2 separate regions of the Homo sapiens genome follow, and region 1 is linked to region 2. The links come from fine-mapping of genetic effects on gene expression. A gene starts in region 2. The other region holds a variant in brackets. All regions are shown on one strand. Distances are between the middles of the regions. Region 1 has its middle 39 kb from the start of ADAMTS15. Region 2 holds the start of ADAMTS15 (ADAM metallopeptidase with thrombospondin type 1 motif 15).

Evidence for each region. PIP is the estimated chance that this variant, and not a neighbour inherited with it, causes the effect. A credible set is the group of variants that fine-mapping cannot tell apart.
Region 1: its variant is the best candidate, but not a certain one, in a credible set for the expression of ADAMTS15 in lung (TOPMed, PIP 0.75).

Annotation. Positions count from the first base shown.
Region 1 is chr11:130,484,857-130,490,228 of GRCh38, forward strand. No RefSeq gene overlaps it. Among named protein-coding and RNA genes, the nearest start is that of ADAMTS15, 39 kb to the left of the region's middle. The variant C/G (reference allele first, on the strand shown) is at 2,613.
Region 2 is chr11:130,445,873-130,451,244 of GRCh38, forward strand. It overlaps ADAMTS15 (ADAM metallopeptidase with thrombospondin type 1 motif 15), which reads left to right and starts at 2,773. Exons shown (of 8, transcript NM_139055.4): 1 at 2,773-4,058. The coding sequence starts at 3,102.

The sequences.
Region 1 (5,372 bases), 39 kb after region 2:
AGTATATATGTAACCTACATGTATATAGGTATACCAAAAAAACATGTGGAAAGATATATGCTGAATGTTCAACAGTGAAAATTTTGAGAAAGTGGGGGCCATGCTGGTGATAGGGATGTGGCGGTATAGGAATGACCTCTGGTGATTTCCCTCCATTTCTTTACCGTATGAATTTCTTTTGTTTTATGCTTTATTTTTGGTATTAGCTTAGTGATGAAGAGCACGCACCTGGAGTCAGATTGTCTGACTCTTGATTTGAGCACAGGCTCAGATCCTGACTTTGCTACTTTGGAACAGCTTTTCTAGATCTCTGTTTCTGCATTCATAATGGAGAAAATAATAAGATTTGTATGATAGATCAGATAACGAATGGAATGCATTCATTGGCACAGTGCTTGGCACCTAGTAAGACTGATGAATATTAGCTACTTTTATTACCATGGAAAGGCAATAGACAAGGAAAAAAGCTCTTACATGCAATTTATGTTAAGAAGTATGGCGTTCTTAATCCCAGAGTGTTGTTAAATCTTGTTCAGTTTAATTGAACAAATAATTGAGATTCTACCGTTTATGCAAGGGACTGCCCTGAAACGTGCAGAGAGGAATGAGGAATAAAAGTAGTTAGACCAACGTTTACTTGTAAATAACTTCACAATAGGCAGATACAGCTTCGTCTATAAAATAACCCTAACTCACAGGGCTGTTGCGACTGCTTAATGAAGAAATGTCTGTAAAGCAGATATTAGTAAGAATTCAAGACACAGCAACGTTTTTGTTGTTATATTCGCCTCTCTTTTGTAATAAAACCTACCTGGAAAATTAAATCTGGAAGGCAGCTCAGGAACTACAGATATAGGAAGAATTACTTAAGGGAAGTGTCACCAAGCCACGCAGACACTGGCTCATTCTAGATGTCTCTAGAAGCAGACAGGAATACCTGTCATGGCTAGGTGTTGTCTGCAGCACCAGGTGGGAAACTGACAGGTTTCCTCCTCACTATTCCTTTTTGGTGACCAAGAGCTTCTTTATAGCTTCACCACGGAGACAAGTGACAGCTTCTTAGGTTATTGTCCCCACCCAAGAGATTGGCTTCTTTTTGGCACTTGCTTCCCGGTGGCATGGATTATTTCTGAAAGGCACCTGTAGATTCTTGTCCCTTTCCCCGGGTCTTGCAAGACAGTTTTCTTTGTGGGTCCCTGGTAGCCCACACTGACACTTGGTCAGTGACACTGTGGCCACTACATGAGTAGTGATGGTGCTGGCCCATCCTGGGCTCTGCACTCTTGGTCTCATGCGTGGGCCGGGCCCCTGTCTGTGTGTCCACGGTGCGTGCCCACCCTGACGGCACCTGCTGGCGGCTCGCACCTCAGAGCCTGCGTGGGCCGCGGCTGCACCCGAGTCCTCTGCTTCATCGAAAGAGACTGACTTGGCAAGCCCAACTTGACAACAAATTAAAAAGAATGCTCGGGCTAGACATGGGGGACTGTTTTATTTCATTCTTTCCTTTGGGGGATGTCTTGTGGGATTGACTTTCTTAGTGAGAGAGATGAGGAGAGAGGAACATATACTTGCGGGATTTGTGCCAGAGGCGGGGAGGTGGGAGGAGTCTGGGGAAAGGATTACAAGAAGGGCCACGAGGAGCAGGGACTGAGGGAGGGGCTCCCGGGTCTGGGGTGGACCCCACCATTGGGGGAAGCAAGCGGAGGGAGAGCCTCGAGGGCAGCGTCCCATCTGCAGGGGTGCGCGGTTGGGGGCGGTGGGCATCTGGGAAGAGAGGTTGAGGCGCAAGAATCAGCTCAAGGATCCAGGTCCAATCCCCAGTTCCAGGCCCTGTGAACTATGCCTGACCTCCAGTGACGGTCGCTCCTGCTGGTGCTTTGGCCTCCTTATCTGTAGAGGGAGGTAATAGCAGTACCTGGCTGACAGGCTTGCAGAGGGCGTGTAGAGCACCGAGTGCCCGTTGTCCTTGTCACCCAGGTGTGCAGTGCAGGTGAAGGCAGCAGCAGTCAGGGCGCATGGGCACGGGAAAGGGGATCCTCCCAAACCTTATCCCTTCCCGCCTCTCACGTCTTGCCTTACTCAGGCAGCTTCTTAGAAGACAACGTTCCCTCCAGCAAGGTCACTTTTCCAACGCCCCTGGCTAGGGAGGCGGCACCTCCTTGAGCATCAGCCACCAATGTCCCCTCGGTGGGGTCCTGGCTCTTTCTGGATTGGATCTTATACGCTCTGGACACGCAGGCCCGGCTGGCAGAAAAAAGGGCCTCAGCTGCAGCGGTCACGGGTCACAGCAGATCACCCCTCGCGTGCTGGGCCTCTCCCTGCAGGGCACAGGCCCCAGCCTCTCAGCTTTCTGCCGGGTTCGAGGCCCGGCCCATCTGGGACGTTCATGTTGGAAATATGAAGTGTGACTTCCCTTGCCTGGGGACGCCTGAGCCAACCCAGGCTGGGCTTATCTCTTTACTCAACACAGTGTTTGTTTGAGGACAATCAAAGTATGTTCTCTTTCTGCTTTCTTCCAAGGGAGGAAAGAGCAAAGCCGGCTGCTACCCCGGGGCAGGGGCTGCCTGGCTCAGCGTCAGATCTGCGCTCTCTTTTTAGCCTCTGATCCCGGC[C/G]TACGCCTTTCTTGGGCCAGTCTATGGAATTAAGCATACTCAAGCTCAGGGCTCTGCAGCCGACAGCATCTCTGAACTTAGCTCTGTGGGGAGAGTTCATCCCCACCCTGCGCCATGACTCCCTCACTCCCCGGTCACAACCCTCCATCTCCAGCACGCTGAAGCCCTTTCTCCACCCCAGACTGCAGCCGCAGGCTCCTTCTGGCTGGGCCACCTCTTCATCCCACAGTGTCTGCAGCTCCCTCTGCAAAGCTAACTTGCCTGTCTGCAGGCGAGAGGCCTTGGCTTCCCTAGGCCTCTGGTTTCCGCCTTTCCTCCTGTTCCTGCTCCTTCTCTTTCCTTCTTCCCATTCCAGACCCACCAGTCCCTAGGGCCAGCACCCCATTCTGCCTGCCCAACTCCAGGGAGGGCCAGAGCCCCTGATCTCCCTCTAGCTCCCACCTCCACTGAGGGTCAAGGTTTCTCGTTGCAGGCATGGAGGGAGCTAAGCCCAGCCACTGGAATGGGAACAATCAACTCATTGTTGGAGATGCTTCTGGGGTCATTCAAAATCCACAGGTCACTGGGTGCCCTCAGCCAGGACTGGAGGACAAGGTCTATGTGTGAACTCGGGAAAGCCACATGGGGCCTCATGGAGTCTCACTGGCAGCCATGAGCAGTCAGTAACCCCTGGCTCGTGCTTCACAGGGCCCAAATCACTTTCCTCAGGAGCCCGCATGAGAAATGTTTTGAAACATTTTTACGATGACACTCAAAGATGCAAAAGCAGAGAGAAATGAACAACCAAGGCCCAGGCGCTCATCAGCCCACTTCCTGCTGTTGTTGTTTCCTCAACATCATGCTCCCTTCCCTGTGTAATACTCTCTTTTTTTAACTTGCAGATAGTTGATGACCTTTTAGATGAATTTATCACGTGACCCTCTGCTACAATAAACAGTAAAACTATGCTGTTATGTTTTATCATGGCCTATGCTTTGCCCTCAGGAGTTGTGATCTGTTTTAGTAAAGACCTCAATTCAATGGCAAAGTATTGTCAGAACAGCCCCGCTTCATGCCAGATTGAAAATAGTTGTTTTAGGCAGGCATTTTCCTACATCTAATCAGCCAACATTAAATAATGACGTGACTGGCTAGTTTCTGCAGCTGCTTTGTGCCGGGTGTTGGCTGGGGCCTAGCTCTTTACTGCCAGTCCTTTCTGACCCTCTAGCGGAAGCAGGGCTCCCCTAGATGAGAAACTCTTCAGCAGCCTCCCTGATTCTGTGGTGATGTAGCAGGGGATGTTGCCCAAAGTGACATTCACTGGCCTTTTTAAAGGAATGACACCGTAATTCCTTCTGGAAGACGGCTCCGGGGAAGGGTGTGTGTTTTTTGATAACTGGTATAATCTCTTTTTCTAACAATAAGAACTATGAACACCATCGAGTTTTGCTTTTTGCCTTGGCAACCAGGAAGCTTAGTGCTAAATTTAGGGCTCAACTGAGTGACTGTTTCACCTGCGATTCCAGTTAACTTATCTCCCCCATTTCCTTTATAATTTCTAATTTCTCCCTGTTATCTTTATGGGCATGGAGGTTTTATTGTACCCACCCTTCACTTTCATTTCTTTAAGCTTCAGAGTGGGAAATTAAAAGCAAAAGCAAATAGACTACAACTGCACATTCCCTGTGATCCATGTCCATAGAGCCTTGTTCGTGAGAAACCCAAAGGGGTTAGAGTACTAGCCCAAGATCACACCATCAGTGATGAGAATCAGACCTTAGTTTACACAGTGCATGGACGCTTTATAATCCATGCTTTATACTTTTAAAAGTCTTCCTCCTATCTCGTCTTAATTTATTCTTGATTTATTCTTTCAACAAATACTCACTTCTCACTTTATTTGTAATATACTAGGCACTGTGGACCAATAAAGATAAAACACACACTTTTGCCTTTAGGGAATTTACAGTTTAACAGGGAATATCAGAGTGCTCATCTAATTAAAACACAAGATAAAAAGTGTGGGAATGTTTTAGATAAAATTTATTGAAGTTGAGGGGAGGAAGGAGTTATTTGAAGGTAAGGAATGAGGACAGACTGTGAAGATGGTTGACATTTACACTGATTCTAGGAGAGGGAAGGATAGACATAGGGATCTTTTATTCTTACTATTGTCCCCATTTTACAGAGGATGAAATCAAGACAGAGGGAGGAAGATTTTCTCTATTCACCCAGTTGGACATTTTTACTGTTTTAATCATCCCTTCTGCCTGCCCCCACCATCAAAGGCTTTAGGACAAGCGAAGCCTGGAGTATATTTGTTCTTAGGTGACAACTACAGTCATGCACCGCGTAACAAGTTTTCAGCGAATGACAGTCCACATGTTCAATGGTGGTCCCATAAGATTGTAAAGGAGCTGACAAGTTCCTATTGTCTTGTGACGTAGCCCTCCGAACGTTGCAGTGCAAAGCATTACTCATGTGTTTGTGATGATGCTGGTGTAAACAAACCTACCGCACTGCCAGTCGTATAAAAGTCTAGCACATACAATAATGTACGGTAAATAGTGCTTAATAATCATAAGTAATGACGATGTTGCTGGCTTACGAATTTACTATACTATACTTATTATCATTAGAGTGTACTCCTTCTACTTATAAAAAAGTGTTTACTGTAAATCAGTGTCAGGCAAGCAGGTCCCTCAGGAGGTATCCAGAAGAAGGCATTGCTGTCATAGGAGATGACAGCTCCATGCCTGTTACTGTCCCTGAAGACGTGCT
Region 2 (5,372 bases):
TTAAATACGAGAATGCACATATAACTCTTGGTGCAATGTTTAGCACATACTAAGCCTGCAATACATGCTAATCCCTTTGAGCAAATCCACATGGCCAGTTTCTGTGCTCAGGGGTGAGAATAGCTGGGCTGTGATTGGGGCAGGGGGAGCACTAAGTGGGAGGGACTTCCTGTCTCAGGTCCCTGCCATCTTGACTGACATGCTGCAGCCCTTGCCAAAACCCATGGGTCAGAATGAAAGTAAAGTGCCGTTGAAAACCTTGCAATCCACCTTTAAAACTGCCGGGTGTAGTAAAACAATTGCTTGCCCCAAATAAATGACTTATCATTGCTGTTGGTTGTCTGCGTTTCTCTTTAATTATAGGCCCTCTTTGAACGCTCAAACACACAGGGCCTTTGTAAGCTTGAACTCCCTGTCTCACACACAGTCCTCCCATACCCATACACTCTCTTTCATTTGCAGAGTATAAACACCCATCTCTCACTCATTCACATAATGAATTTCAGCTCCTTGTGTCCCAATCAAGGAGAGGCCTCACTGGAATTATGGGCATCTGAGCCATCTTCATGTTCCAAGGCCCCAGGGGGCGCTTCCAAGAGTGGATCCTTTATGGGGAGAAGATAATGGGCAAAAAGTGCTCTTCACTGATGGACCAGTCCCAGCCTTTTCTCTCCTTGGACAATAGAGTTCTTCCCTTGAACAGCCACTTCCCTAAAAAAAATTCCAAAATTCTCCCACATCATCCCCTTTATGCTTAAAATCATCACACACTCCCTTCTTTGTCCTCCCCTCTTGCAAACTCAACTCAGAGCCCTTTGGCTCCAGAAAGATTTTCTAGGTATCAGGAGAGAGTAGCAAAGCCTCCCTCCTCTCCTTGCCTTTCTCCCTTGTCAGAGAAAGAAGTTGATTCTGCGGAGAGGTAAGAAGGATCTTGAGGTCTAGAGCCTGAAAAACTCCTTGGGCTGTTCTCCAAACTAGATGGGAACATAAGGTGCGATTGCATCTTCTCCAGCTGATACTCACTCGGCCTCCTATGCCAGTCCCCAGTCCAGGGTTTGGTCAAGGGTCAAATGAGATAATTTCATGGAGGAAGCCTGGCCCGATTTTTCTACTGTTTGCTGGAAGACAGCCTCTTCCTCTTGTAACTGCAGCCCCAGAACCTGATCTCCACATCCCTGCCAGGCAGGTAGCTGTGTACAAGGGCTCATCTTCCTGCCCCCAACCCCAGCTCTGATTTGCTTATTCAGGTGGTGTAAATACTTCTACCAGGACCTATTTCAAGCCATTGTGATGTCCCTGACTGGGGAGATGCAGGGCAGCACACCATTTAATATTTCCCTCACATTTCCACCCCATTCTGCACTCTTTTCTGGGAGTTGCTGTCTCAGAGGGTTGGCGGTTCTGGTGGCTCAAGACCATAAGTAATTATCAAATACTTAGGAAGCGACGGGTTTTGAGTATTTATTACCTTTTAAAAATGTACTTTGTGGCTAGGCATGGTGGCTCACGCCTGTAGTCCCCGCACCGGGAGGCCGAGGTGGGTGGATTGCTTGAGCTCAGGAGTTCAAGACCAGCCTGGGCAACACGGCGAAACCCAGTCTCTACCAAAAATACACACACACACACACACACACACACACACACACACACACACACACAAATTGGCCTAGCGTGGTGTCGTGTGTCTGTGGTCGCAGTTACTCAGGAGACCAAGGTAGGAGGTAGGAAACCAAGGTAGGAGGATCACCCGAGGTCGGTAGTTCGAGACCAGCCTGACCAACATGGAGAAACCCTGTCTTTACTAAAAATACAAAATTAGCTGGGCGTGGTGGTGCATGCCTGTAATTCCAGCTACTTGGGAGGCTGAGACAGGAGAATGGCTTGAACCCGGAAGGCGGAGTTTGCGGTGAGCTGAGATCGCGTCATTGCACTCCAGCCTGGGCAACAAGAGCAAAACTCCGTCTCAAAAAAAAAAAAATATATATATATATGTGTGTGTGTGTGTGTGTGTGTGTATGTATATATATATATGTATGTGTATATATATGTATGTGTGTGTGTGTGCATATATATATATACACTTTGTTTAATTGTAAGTGTGTTTAGTTTAATTTTTAATAATGTCCGTGATTAACAGCTGGCTGGCAAGATTCCTGAGAACTGAAGAGTTTGCCCCAGCCCATCCAGCACACCATGGGCCCAGGGCAGACCTTGGGGCTAGGCGGTCTTGGGTTCCAGAGGGCTCCCATGCCCCTGTCCTATTGCTCTTCTGGCAATAGGACATTTACGCGGGGGGGGGGGTGGTTCTTGATTCTGGGTCTTTTAGGGGACTCTGTGATTAAGAAACAGCAGGGATGTTGCAACAGCAGGGATGAGGTGGGCCTGGGGACGGGTCAGTGAAGGGTCTTCATTCCTAGCTGCTGACCTGATCTGCCCTGAGATAAAAGACTAAGACCCAGAGAGTGAACGCTGTCCGCGGGGGCAGAAGCGAGTGAGGCGTCGGGACAGTGGGGCATAACCAAGAGCAAAACGCAAACTGAGACTTCAGCGCCGGTTTCTCGGGCCAGCCCACGCCTCCTGCCTCAGCTCAATGCCACTCCCTCCCCGCCAAGTGGCTCTCCGCTCTGGAGGCGGGACCGAGTTCTCCGGTGGCCCCTGGAGGCTCCGGCAGCGAGCTCTGGGAGGCTGGGAGGGGAGTGAGGGGAGGGGCGCTGACTGGGCCGTCCAAAGAGGAGGGGGCCTTTAATAGGCTCGCCCAGCGCCTGGCTTGCTGCGCTGCGAGTGGCTGCGGTTGCGAGAAGCCGCCCGGCACCTTCCGCTAGTTCTCGGCTGCAAATCTTCGTCCTTGCACTTGACAGCGATTGTACTTAAGCTCCCAGGGCGCGCTTTGCTTGGAAAGGCACAGGTAGGAAGCGCGGGCTGCCGGGTGCACGCTCGCCGCCCTGGGAGGAGTCTCCCTCCCTTGGCTCTCCTTTCTGGGAACTGCCGGCTGTCCCGTAGCGTTGGCGGTTCCAGAGTGCGGGCTGCACGGAGACCGCGGCAGCGGCCGGAGAGCCCGGCCCAGCCCCTTCCCACAGCGCGGCGGTGCGCTGCCCGGCGCCATGCTTCTGCTGGGCATCCTAACCCTGGCTTTCGCCGGGCGAACCGCTGGAGGCTCTGAGCCAGAGCGGGAGGTAGTCGTTCCCATCCGACTGGACCCGGACATTAACGGCCGCCGCTACTACTGGCGGGGTCCCGAGGACTCCGGGGATCAGGGACTCATTTTTCAGATCACAGCATTTCAGGAGGACTTTTACCTACACCTGACGCCGGATGCTCAGTTCTTGGCTCCCGCCTTCTCCACTGAGCATCTGGGCGTCCCCCTCCAGGGGCTCACCGGGGGCTCTTCAGACCTGCGACGCTGCTTCTATTCTGGGGACGTGAACGCCGAGCCGGACTCGTTCGCTGCTGTGAGCCTGTGCGGGGGGCTCCGCGGAGCCTTTGGCTACCGAGGCGCCGAGTATGTCATTAGCCCGCTGCCCAATGCTAGCGCGCCGGCGGCGCAGCGCAACAGCCAGGGCGCACACCTTCTCCAGCGCCGGGGTGTTCCGGGCGGGCCTTCCGGAGACCCCACCTCTCGCTGCGGGGTGGCCTCGGGCTGGAACCCCGCCATCCTACGGGCCCTGGACCCTTACAAGCCGCGGCGGGCGGGCTTCGGGGAGAGTCGTAGCCGGCGCAGGTCTGGGCGCGCCAAGCGTTTCGTGTCTATCCCGCGGTACGTGGAGACGCTGGTGGTCGCGGACGAGTCAATGGTCAAGTTCCACGGCGCGGACCTGGAACATTATCTGCTGACGCTGCTGGCAACGGCGGCGCGACTCTACCGCCATCCCAGCATCCTCAACCCCATCAACATCGTTGTGGTCAAGGTGCTGCTTCTTAGAGATCGTGACTCCGGGCCCAAGGTCACCGGCAATGCGGCCCTGACGCTGCGCAACTTCTGTGCCTGGCAGAAGAAGCTGAACAAAGTGAGTGACAAGCACCCCGAGTACTGGGACACTGCCATCCTCTTCACCAGGCAGGTGAGTTGATCTGCCGTCACTTTGCACCCAGATAGTCCCGTTCTTTAGGGTCACCTCCCCTAGCGCTCCAAATCCCCTTTGTATCGTGCAATGCCTCCGAGTTTAAACCTCGTTGATCTCTTCCGACTCCAACTCTGTGGAGTTTCCAGGGAGAGCCCTCTCCCACGCTCCGCGGAGCGGCGGCTCACGTGCATCTGGGCCATTGGAGGAGAGCCTGCGCTTTCCGAAGGTGTTGGCCTGGCGCGGCCAATCAGCGCCTCCTGGATCAGGCGCCGAGGGGCCGGAACCCAGGAAGTTGCCGCCCCGGAGCTGCAGTTTGTGTCCAAGACCGATAGGAGACGCCGTGAGGATGGTGTTGGAGAGGGCGGGAACGGCCCACCCCTATTGTATGGGCGGCTGAGTCTTCTCGGACACCTCCTGAGGTCTCCTTTCAAGGGTTGTAGAACTGAAGGTGATCCAAGGTCAGCGCTTGCTACATTTCTCTCGGGTAACACGTTGTCCCCTCTCTGTACTGGGCCTGGAAAGCCTGGATTGGGGTGGAGGGAATCATTGAGAGATTTTGTGGGTTGCAGTGACAGGCCAGACTCAAGTACTGCGAGCATCCCTCCTTCACTGCCGCTTCTCCTACAGACTTCTCTGCTGGGCATGGTCCAAGAGGCTTCTAGACCATTCTGAGCAGGCGGTGTAGTTAGGGCACCTGTTTGGAGCTGAGACTGTTTCACTTGGAGTTTCAAGTGGAGTTTTACTTGGAGCTGAGTTGGGAAAATCTCTTCCAATTTTCCTGTATCCTTGCTGTCAGAGGGTGACCCGTTTGCCCAGATGTATACTACAGAGCAGAGCGGGCATGCTTGCTCCTGCTCCCAAGTCACTAAAATTCCTATGACCACACTTGACTTCAGGGCTCTAGCTTCTGCCCTTGCTGGGGTGGAAGTGGTGTGAGCTTAGTCAAGAGTATTTGGAGATTCCAGCTGTAGAGTTAGAAGGAAACTGAGTATTGGGATTAGAAAGATGGACCCAGCCCAGGAAGCAGCCCTGCCTTTTGCAAGGCCTTTCCTGATATTCTATGTCAAAGAAGCTACAAATCTGCAAACGTTTAGATTCACAGGTGTTGGAGTGATTGGGCACTGAGGAGTATTTGGATTCTTGAAATTTCTCAGATACAGGAGGCTGGGAGGAAAAGAGCCATCCAAGTGAGCCTCTTCTTCTGATTTGGGGGACTGTGACTTGAATCTGTGCCATGCTCTTTTTTTTGGTTATTATCATAACCACAGCACTCTGGGGATGGCGTGGAATCCTTGGTTACCTGTGGGGCTC